Linked DNA regions of Homo sapiens: region 2 is linked to region 1. Evidence: fine-mapped expression QTL. A gene starts in region 1. The other region holds a variant in brackets. All regions are shown on one strand. Distances are from middle to middle.

Region 1 (5,000 bases):
AAGTTGAGGCTGCAGTGAGCCGTGATCATGCCACTGGACTCCAGCCTGGGCAAGAGAGTCTTTACCTTGTCTTTCAAAATAAAATAAAGAATAAAAAGTACAAAAAGAAAATTCCTTTTTCCACTTCTGGACATTAGAGGAAGAAGCTGCCATCTAGACTGGTGCAGTGGCTCACGCCTATAATCCTAACACTTTGGGAGGCCAAGGTGGGTGGATCATGTGAGGTCAGGAGTTCAAGACCAGCCTGGCCAACATGGTGAAATCCCGTCTCTACTAAAAATACAAAAATTAGCCAGGTGGTAGTGGCGTGCACCTGTAATCCTAGCTACTTGGGAGGCTGAAGCAGGAGAATCGCTTGAGCCTGGGGAGGCAGAGGTTGTGGTGAGCCGATATCGCATCACTGCACTCCAGTCTGGGCAACAGAGTGAGACCCTGTCTCAAAAAAAAAAAAAAAAGAAAAACAAAAAGAAGTTGCAATCTAGCAACCATGAAAGAAAAGCCAAGAGGAGACAAGCTAGGACCATATTGTCGAGCTGCTGCATTAACCAACCCTTCTTCTTGTAGGTGATAACAAAGGAATTGGTTATTATCTCTATATTTACAGATGACGAAACCAAGGCACTGAGACAATTAAGTAACTTGTCTAAGGTCAGAGTGGTAGAACCAGGATTCAAATCCAGGCAGCCTGGCTCCAGTCTTTAATCTCTATACCTCTCCAAAGCAAGCTAACTGCTACAAGACCGCTCCCAACAAGTACAAGGACATTATGAAGTCTTTCTGGTAATGCAAAAGGTGCTTTTGATCATTTACAGGTTTCAGTAGGTGACTGCACTGTACATATATTGCTCAGTGTTGCAGTGGTACATATATATTATGGGTTTTTGTCCCCATAATTGCACATCCAAAAAGACTCCAAAAAGGTATTACCAAAAACAGGTCGAGTTAAGTCCGAGACATTCTGAAAAAGCGATCCACTCCTATAACTCTTAAATCCACCAGGACTTAATTTTGACACACAGTAAGGGGTAAAGATGGAAAATAACTTTTCCCCAAAGAGTAATCACATACACCAAGACTGTTTTTGACTAATCCAGAAAAGGAAGTTAATGAATGTACTCTTTGGGTCATGCATCCCATGCAATTTTAGGATAAAACAGCAAAATAGGAAAAACATGTTTCTTGCTCTTATGATGCTTCCTGGTGTAGTGGAACAGAAATGACAATGTAGCAATTCCATGTGAGATGGTCCTTTGAAAGAGCTAGGTACAGTGACAGCTATGGACTCTTACCTCTAAGCTGTGGTGGAAGATGTTTGATGGACAGTACCTCTTGCACAACATACTGATTCACCCCTCCACTTTTCAACAACTCCTCTGGGGATAATGGCAGATGGAACTCATACATTTGGGGAGCCATTCTACTCCTACAGGCTCACAGGGCTAGAAACCAAACAGTGAAAAAGTCAGGGTCTATATTCAAGACCTGTCTTCGTATCTGGTTCTATTACTTTCCCATCCCCAACATATATAATGGCTTTTAGTTTTATAGCAAGCTAGTAACATCATCTGGTTTTGTTAGTTCCCCACCCCCAACATATATAATGGTTTTTAGTTTTATAGCAAGCTAGTAACATTATCTTACGGGATCTGAGATTGACCCTGGACTAGAAACTAATTCTAGTAGTGACTTTGGCACTTGGTCTTGACACTTAAACCTCTGGGCTTTATCTGTAAAAACAGGGTTACTAAACTCTGATTACTTCACAAAGTTGCTCTGATGATCAAACAAATCAAGCAGTACGAAGGTGTTTAAAGAACTATAAAGTGGCATATTAATGTGCAAAGTACTATTATTTCCATTTTTATGTGCAAAGCTCCTTAAGTATAGAGAGAATGGTCTGATCTCGTCTGAGGCCAAAACAGTGCCCCAGCATGGGCTAGTGGGCTTCCTGCACCAGAATGGTAAGAGCATTAACAATGATGATTTATTTATCCTGTGCCAAGTCTGTTAGGCTGTTTGCATGTATCATATCTGATCTAAGTATCCTAACCTCAATCCCATGAGGTGCATAATAATACAAATGAGTTTACAGAGCGGAAATTGAAGTAAGAAAGTTAAGCGATTTGCTTAACATCTTCCGTTGCGGATCTGTTAAGCGATTTGCTTAACATCTTCCGTTGCGGATCTGTTAAGCGATTTGCTTAACAACTTCCGTTGCGGATCTGTCAGACTTACAGTTTCTCACACATCGCGCCCCAGGGATATACTTACTAGGCCTATTGTATTTTGCCCAAGACTGGGTCACACTGCCATGTACTCGACTTTCCTACTCTTTTACGACCTGCAACACCACATCTTACCTGGGGATCTCACCCGCGGCTCTGATTCCGGCAGTCAGGCTGAAATGAAAAGGAAAAAACACGCGTGCACAACACGCACCAATTAGCAAGGCAGTTTTCAAGTCGGCGGAGAATCCGGCCAATCCCCGGCAGGCAGAGGCAAAGGGCCGCCTCTGAGTCTGGCAACGCGCGGGCAAAGCCACAAATACCGAGTTCAAATCTCAACGGCTGCAGGACGGCCAATCGCGACGCCCGCCGGAGCGGCCGGCCAATCACAGCGCCGCCCGGGGGCGGGCCAAGGCTCCGGCTCCGGCCCCCGCTCCCACCCCCGGCCCGCCTGCGAATCCCTCCTTGGCCGCAAGGTCCCCCTTTGCCCAGTCGGCGGGGAGGAGGCCGTATTTCTGCTGGCCAGAGACGTCGCGTCCCTGGCTGGGCATTCAGTCACCCCCAGGAAAGGAGGCAAGTCCACGCTGGGAGTTAGAAGGCATCGCCTCTAATCCAGGTTTCGCCATCTCCTCTGCTAAGTGACGTCCAGCAAGTCACTTCACTTTCAGGACCTCAAATCTCCTCCCCAGTAGTAAAATAGGGGTAATAAAAACAGCTACAGCGGAAGACTGTTGTGAGGCACAGAGAAAGGGCTTGGTCATTGGAAGCGGGTTCCAGGTTCTCAACCTTCATTTCCTTCACGGTTGAAGGACGCCAAAGAAAGCGGAAAGGGTGAATTTTCTTGAAATCTCAGTTTTGGGGAATCTTAGCGACGAGTCGCGGACCTCAGCTTGTCCGGCGCTCCAAAACTTCCGGCAGGCGGACCGGAAGCACTGAGGCGGGAAGGGTGGTAGAGGCCCCTCCTGCCGGAACCCGGGGGGCGGGGCTCGTGGCTGTTGCGGATGGGGCGTAGGTGGGCGGTGCGCCCACAGCTGCCTGGGTAAGGCCCAAGATGGCTGTCTTCGCCTTAGTACTCGTGTGAAGTTGGCGGGGACGGTTCCTGTCATCTTCTTGGGCTTATTTGGTGTGCTGTTGAAGGGGGGAGACTAGAGAAATGGCAGGGAACCTCTTATCCGGGGCAGGTAGGCGCCTGTGGGACTGGGTGCCTCTGGCGTGCAGAAGCTTCTCTCTTGGTAAGTGGCTGATGTAGGCACCCCGATAACTGCTTCGTAGTATAATAGGCGGCTCAGATTAATTCCCTCCCTTCCCCATCCCCAGGTGTGCCTAGATTGATCGGTATAAGGCTCACTCTCCCGCCCCCCAAAGTGGTTGATCGTTGGAACGAGAAAAGGGCCATGTTCGGAGTGTATGACAACATCGGGATCCTGGGTAAGACTTGACCTTCGACGTGGTACACAATTTCAGAATGGCAATTAGGCTGTAACGACTATCTTTTCCTCCTGTGTAGAGAGTGGTACTGTGCTCAATAGTAAGAGCAAACACTTATGTAGCTGTTTACATTGTGTTTGGCACTGTTCTGAGTCCCCTCGTATAATTTTTACTTCATAAGTAAAAATAAACAGTTTTTCCAAAGTTAATAAATGGCAGCATCAGAATTTTAACCCCAAGCAGTCTGGCTCCAGAGTCTGTGCTATTGTTCTGTACTGTAATGTTCCTTGTCTATAGGTGCTGCTCAGCAAGATGCAACCGTGGGTTGAAAGCTTAGCTGGTGTAGGATGAGTTCTCTTGTCTTGGATCTAATGTGTTCTCTCACATTACACAGGAAACTTTGAAAAGCACCCCAAAGAACTGATCAGGGGGCCCATATGGCTTCGAGGTTGGAAAGGGAATGAATTGCAACGTTGTATCCGAAAGAGGAAAATGGTTGGAAGTAGAATGTTCGCTGATGACCTGCACAACCTTAATAAACGCATCCGCTATCTCTACAAACACTTTAACCGACATGGGAAGTTTCGATAGAAGAGAAAGCTGAGAACTTCGGAAAAGGCTCATCTGTCACCCTGGAGAAGGGAAACTGTACTTTTCCCTGTGAGGAAACGGCTTTGTATTTTCTCTGTAATAAAATGGGGCTTCTTTGGAATTTGATAGCCACATACTTTTGTTTTCCTCTAGATGCTGCCTCTACTCATGTAGACTATGAAGTCTTGACTCATCCTAGATCTTAGGATCTTAGGTTTGGGCTTCACACCACTTGCCTTTTACAGTCTAGCTATACCTAATTCCTTTAAAAAGAAAAGTTGGTGAGAATGTTATTGGCGCTTTTTGACATAATGCTGTTATGTTAATAGTGTTTCTAAAGAGCCTTCCACACTGAAATGAAATATAAGAGAAAAATGGAGTCATACTTCTGTACTACTCTCATAAAATATTTATTAGGCATATTCTCTGAGTAGGAACTATAGGAAAAACAAAAAAGTGTGAGGTGTCCTTTCCATTTAAATATGAAACATTAAGTACCATATGAATGGTAGAGATGGCGGATACTAAGCCTGACTGGTCATCAGTTTTCTGGGTGTTTTAACATTTCAAAAGCCTAGTCCTAACCCCTAAAGATTGATCAGTAGAGCTGAGTTGAGTCTAGGGCATCTATGTGTTTTGTTCTTTTTTAATAATAATTTTTAAGAATTACAGCTGGGCAGAATGGTGCCCACATGTAATCCCAGCATTTTGGGAGGCTGAGGTGGGAGGATTGCTTGGAGACAGGAATTTGAGACT
Region 2 (5,516 bases), 39 kb before region 1:
TGCATGTGTGTGGGGAGAAGGGATGGGAGAGAGCCCCAGCCCAGGCCCCCAGCTACAGAAAGGTCAGCAGCTATATTTAACCTCAGACCAGGGTGCGGTGGGAGATCTGGTTTCCGGAAGACGGAATGGGGAGAAGGGCAGGTTCCCCGAGGCGCCCAGACACCCAATCCTCCCGGTGACATTTACAGCCTGGCCTTTGGGGTCGGGTCAACGCTAGGCTGGCAGGGGAAGGGCGGGGCCGTGAGGTGAGCCGGCGCTGCAGGAAGGGGCCACCACCAGAGGGGCCATTTTGCGGTGGAAATGTCCTTTTCCAACTACCCATGACTCAGCTTCTCCCGGCTTGGCACCATGCCACAGCCACCACACCTCTGCGGGGAGGGGACACAAGAGGACCTCCATAAACCCACTTCTTTGATTTACCAGAGAATAATCTAGGAAAAGCATCACCCGGAGGAGAAATCGGGCCAGCTAGCCTCGCTCCACCTGACTTCCCCGCCACACGCGACTCCACCCATCGAGGCAGGAGCGCAGGGTTAGTCACCGGCAGGCTTTCCTAACGGCTGCCCATTCATTTCCTTCCCGGTTGCAACATGGCGGCCGCTCTACCGCAGGCGCAGCATCCGGACAGGGATGCACCCGCTGCGCACTAGCATCCCGGGGCCTGCGGTGCCGGAGGCCGTGGGGGAGGGGCTCCTCTGCGACACGTGACCCCGCAGAGCGCGAAAGGAAAGAAAGCGTCCCCCACCTAGGGGTCCGGGTCGGGATCTCGGGCGGGAGTAGGGACCTCCTGTTTCTGGGGACTAGGGGAAGGAGGCTCCGGGCAGATGGCGCCGCAAGGGCGGAGCTGCACAGGGCGCCACAGCCTGGGTGCGGGGCTCCGCCAGGTCCGAGCGCTGACCTTGAGCTCTCCTTGCGGGGAACAGCTACCCTGCCCCCATACGACTGCAAAGACCCGGAGCCCGCAAGGCTCGTAGACGCGGTTCGGGGGCGGTCGCAGCCCAGGGCCCCCCAGCCACCCGCGAACTCACCCGTTGACTCCGACCTTCACCTTCCCCATGGTGTCTGAGCGATGTGGCTCGGCTGCGCGGAGGGAGAGAACAGTGAGCGCCTAGTGGCCCCGGCCGACACACACGCCTCCCCTCCCCTCCCCCACCAGGCCTCCATGCCCAGCCCGCGCCGCATCACGTCCTCCGCCCGCCCCTGCAATGCGGAGGCCGCCCGGGCCCACCCCGCAGCGGCGCGAACACATCCGGCCTGCGCCCGCCCCTGCCGCCTTCAGGCCGTCCCTAGCCTCCCGGGTTTCTCTCCGCCCGTCTTCACCTGGCGACGCAAAAGAAGATGCGGCTGACTGTCGAACAGGAGGAGCAGAGAGCGAAGCGGGAGGCTGCGGGCTCAATTTATAGAAACCGGGGGCGCGGCGGCAGGCGGTGACTCGGACCCCGCCTCCCGCCAGGCTCAGCCAGTCCCAGCCCAAGGTCTTGAGGCCTGAGCTACGTGCGCCCGTAAAACCGCTAGTAGCCGGGCCCTACTTTCTCCCCGCTTTTTTTTTTCCGCAGCCGCCTGGTTCAACTGGGCACGCACCGAGCGTGTGGGCCCCGACGTAGGGGGGAAGGGACTGAGATTGGCCCGATGGGAGGTGATCGGTGCTGGTTCCCAGGACTGGACTGTGGGCAGCAGGACACTAGGGAGTCAAGGACGGGGACCCTTACACGCTTGGATGAAACAGGAGGACTTTGGGAACGACTGAGATGGGGAATTGGAGCCGGAGCCCAGCACCGCTCGCGGCTGCACGCGGCCTGCCCCCTCCCCTTTCTTTCTTTCAAAGGCTGAGAGGCGGGAAAGTTGGGGAACTTCTCCTCGAGGCTCTGCGGTAGTGACACCGGACTGCTCAGGCAAAGGCCTAGGAGGGGCCCATGGGCCTCGGGCGGGGGCCCGTGGTTCCTTCCCAGCCCCCACTTCCCCCTCCCCATCTCCTGGCTCCTGGCATCTCTGGGACCGAGGCCTGGGCTGGGCACTGGGCACTGGGCACTGGGGGCCTGGAGAGGAAGGAGGCTCGGGAGGCGGCTTGAGGGGGAGGGGGAGGTTTCTGCACGGAAGGTCACGATGTCCTGCAGCCCTGTAGCCTGGACCTGATAATTAGGGCAGACAATCCCGGCCCTGTGTGCACCAGCGGCTCTCTCCGGGCTGGGGCCCCAGGCGGAGGACAGGATGGCTGGTGGGGGCCCAGAGGCCTCCCACAAAGGCACTCCTGGAAACCTGTGGGCTGTGCTGCCTAGGGAGAGAGACAGTGTGCCTTTCATTCCATCCAGCCTGGGGCGAAGAGCGGGACGTGAGGGCGGAAGTCCCTCCCCGCCCTGGGACGTGCAGGCGAGCCAGGAGCCAGGGACTCCCTTTCACTGGCTGCGCCGGGGGATATTGAGGGCAGGGTGAGTCAAGAAGAGGGAAAAAGTGGGAAAAGAGGTCTTGGGCACACGGTGGGAACAGGTCCCCTGCCCCCTCCCACAGGGGATCCATTCTTCTGGTAGGAGGGCAGAGGGCCAGGTTTGTGAGTGTGGGATGGGAGGGTGCTGAACACTTGTAAGGAAGGGGGTGGGGTGGGGTGGCCTTGGCCCATCAGCAGGTGCATGGGAGGGGGATCCCGGGCCTCTTTGCTGGCCCAGCATAACCTGACACCAGCCCCCTGCCCTTCTAGCTAAAAGCCGGTTGCTAAGTTTAGCCTGCCTGGTGATAATCTTTGCTTAAAAAGCACCCACAGGACTCCAGTCCCTGACCCTGCCTTTCTGGGATTGCCTTTCCTGCTGGGACCCAGAGCCAGGCTGTGTCCTCGTCTGGCTGCCACTGGCATGGTTGGTGCGGGCTTTTCACAATGACCACCCAGAGCAGAGTAGCAAGAGCAAGGCAAGAAGGTCCCTAATGGTGAAAGGGGTGGGGTGGGGGAGTGGAGGAAGCCCCACCTCTGACTCAGCTATTCCTGCAACCAGGACCGTTAACCCTTTCTCATTGAGAGCATTAAGAGCACCTCCATGCTCCTGCACCACCCAAGCGTGATCTTCCCCTCTGCCTCATGCTTGTCATTTTTCATTACTGTCTTCTCCCCGCAAAGAGGGAGCTCAGTGCCCAGGGAGCACTACTGACGTAGTGTGCTGTTGTCATGACAGCAGAGGCACCAGTGTGGTCACGACAGCCAGCTCACAGCCTCCGGTTCGAAGGTGACTCAGCAGAGAAGACTTGAGGAGCTGGAGAGGGGTGCGCAGGCTTCAGGGGGCAGCCCGCCTGCAGCATAGCTCACGCCCTCTGCAGACCCGGGAACAATGAGGAATGCTGGGAGACAGGTCTTGTCTCCTGCAGAGCT[G/A]GAGGGGATCATGATCTGAACTTCCACGAGCCTGGGCCGGTCTGCTGCCAACCTTTGGAGATGGGATTAGGGAACACGAGTGGGGGTGGGGTGAGGCACACGGCAGAAAGCAACCCTTGGTCTAGAGCAGGTTTTCTCAACTGTGACGCTATTGACATTGTGGGCCGTGTGATTCTTTGTTGAGGGGCCATCCTGTGCACTGCAGGATGTTGAGCCACATCCCTGGCCTCTTCCCACAAATGCTGGTAGCATTCTTCCCCTATAGGCTATGACAACAAAACAGGCCCCAGGTGTTGTCAGATGTCCTCTGGCAGACAAAATTGCCCCCGGTTCAGAAGCACTGATCTGGAGCCTAGGCACTGCATAATTCTCCCCAGAGAGGCTGTCTGGTCACTGTGCAGGGTCCAGAGGTTGAGAGGGGAAAGGTGGCAGTGACGGGGCAGGAAGCTCATCTGCCATCCCGGGACAGGCCCTAGGACTCTGGGCTCACTCATCTCTCTCTGCACTGATAACCCTCTCTCTGCTGCATGAAACTGGGCTAATGTGAAAGATGAAACAAAGACAAGCTTAGGAAAAAATGTCTAAAAGTATATAAAAACATTTATTCATTAGAAAACAAGGAGATTGGCAAACATATATTCCAAAGTTGAAGCAGCTCAACGCAGTTCAGTTAGGCTAATTTAAGAGAAAGCCTTGCATTTTAAAGAGCGTGTAGGCATTTTTTTTTTAATTTGAGATGGAGGTTCGCTATTGTTGCCCAAGCTGGAGTGCAATGGTGTGATTTCGGCTCACTACAACCTCCGCCTCTGGGTTCAGGCGATTCTCCTGCCTCAGCCTCTTGAGTAGCTGGGATTACAGGCGCACGCCAATACGCCCGGCTAATTTTTTATTTTTAGTAGAGATGGGGTTTCTCCATGTTGGTCAGGCTGGTCTCGAACTCCCTACCTCAGGTTATCCACCCGCCTTGGTATCGCAAAGTGCTGGGATTACAGGCGTGAGCCACAGTGCCCGGCCTTTTTTTTTTTTAAAAAAAAGAGACAGACAAATATTTTACAAGGGAAACAGAATTCGAATTCCAGGTCACCCTACAGGATACCCTGCACAGGGAGGACAGGAACAGACTTCCTAGGATCTGTGCCTGCGAGCCGATGCTCTGAGAATGGGAGTTGTTTTCTTGGGTGTCTCGTCTTCTGTCATCTCTGCTGAAAGATCTATGCAAAGAATTAAAGGAATAAGAAAAAGCTGAGTCACAAAGATGGTGAAAAAATAGATATCAGAGAACAAGTGAGACAATCCCACACCGCACAGAAGAAATAAAATCCAAGCTGTACAGGAGAGGCCCTTCTGCGGCAGTGGGGCAGAGCATCTACACTCAGGCCCCCGCAGCAGGTCCTATGGAAACCAGCCCTCTGCACCCTAGCTGTGTGCCTTCTCGGCCGGGAACAGGCGGGAGCATCATACCTTCCTCACTGGACTCATCACTTGAGAAGACAACTTTGGGTTTCTTTTTGGAAGCTCGCTGCTGGGTGTTTGGATGCCGACGGGTAGTACGGCGGGGCTCTGGTGTGACAAAGTCATTGTCTGAGGCTGTAGAAGCCAGAGGCTGGTACCTAGAACCTAGAAAAGGCAGGAAAACGTGATTTAAAAAAGAAGAAGAAACAAATCACTGCAGGAGGGGAGGGCCCAGTCTGGTCTCGCCCGCACAGGCTGCCTTACGTACCAGTGGATGGTTTCTTGGCTGATGGCGCTCTCTGGCTACCTGCTTGGCCAATCTCAAGCTCCTTGATTCCATCCAAACCTCTGGTATGACAGGCCCGAAGCTTCTGCTCAAATTCATCTATTATAGCCTGGAGGGAGAAAAGGAGATTCAGAGCAGGCCTGAAAACAGTTACTTCTGATTAAAAAGAAACAAGGCCATGGAAGACATGGAGGCCTTAAACGCACATTACTAAGAAGCCAAGGTGAGAAGGCTCCATACCGGATCATTCCAATGATACATTCTGGAAAAGACAAAGTGATGGCAACAGTAAAAAGATCAGGGGTTGTGGGGAGAGAGGGATAAATAGGTGGAGTGCAGGGGATTTGTAAGGCAGTGAAACTCTTCTGTATGATACTGCAATGGTGGGTACATGTCATTACGTGCAGTGAACTCCAAGGTAAACCA

What was found. PIP is the estimated chance that this variant, and not a neighbour inherited with it, causes the effect.
Region 2: its variant is fine-mapped to the expression of NCAPD2 in whole blood (TOPMed, PIP above 0.99).

What each region holds. Positions count from the first base shown.
Region 1 is chr12:6,491,515-6,496,514 of GRCh38, reverse strand. NCAPD2 (non-SMC condensin I complex subunit D2) reads right to left here and starts at 2,413. Exons shown (of 32, transcript NM_014865.4): 1 at 2,361-2,413; 2 at 1,290-1,439. The coding sequence starts at 1,416. It overlaps MRPL51 (mitochondrial ribosomal protein L51), which reads left to right and starts at 3,253. Exons shown (of 3, transcript NM_016497.4): 1 at 3,253-3,457; 2 at 3,543-3,653; 3 at 4,048-4,629. The coding sequence starts at 3,379. The coding sequence ends at 4,244. RefSeq lists a silencer at 2,456-2,785 and enhancers at 2,221-2,818, 2,986-3,035.
Region 2 is chr12:6,530,374-6,535,889 of GRCh38, reverse strand. NCAPD2 (non-SMC condensin I complex subunit D2) reads right to left here. Exons shown (of 32, transcript NM_014865.4): 30 at 5,073-5,199; 31 at 4,814-4,969; 32 at 3,935-4,563. The coding sequence ends at 4,478. It overlaps GAPDH (glyceraldehyde-3-phosphate dehydrogenase), which reads right to left and starts at 1,373. Exons shown (of 9, transcript NM_002046.7): 1 at 1,321-1,373; 2 at 1,029-1,080. The coding sequence starts at 1,057. GAPDH-DT (GAPDH divergent transcript) reads left to right here and starts at 1,483. Exons shown (of 2, transcript XR_002957397.2): 1 at 1,483-2,426; 2 at 2,747-3,974. RefSeq lists silencers at 1,082-1,221, 1,942-2,191 and enhancers at 820-1,593, 1,594-2,367, 2,368-3,141, 3,102-3,231. The variant G/A (reference allele first, on the strand shown) is at 3,353.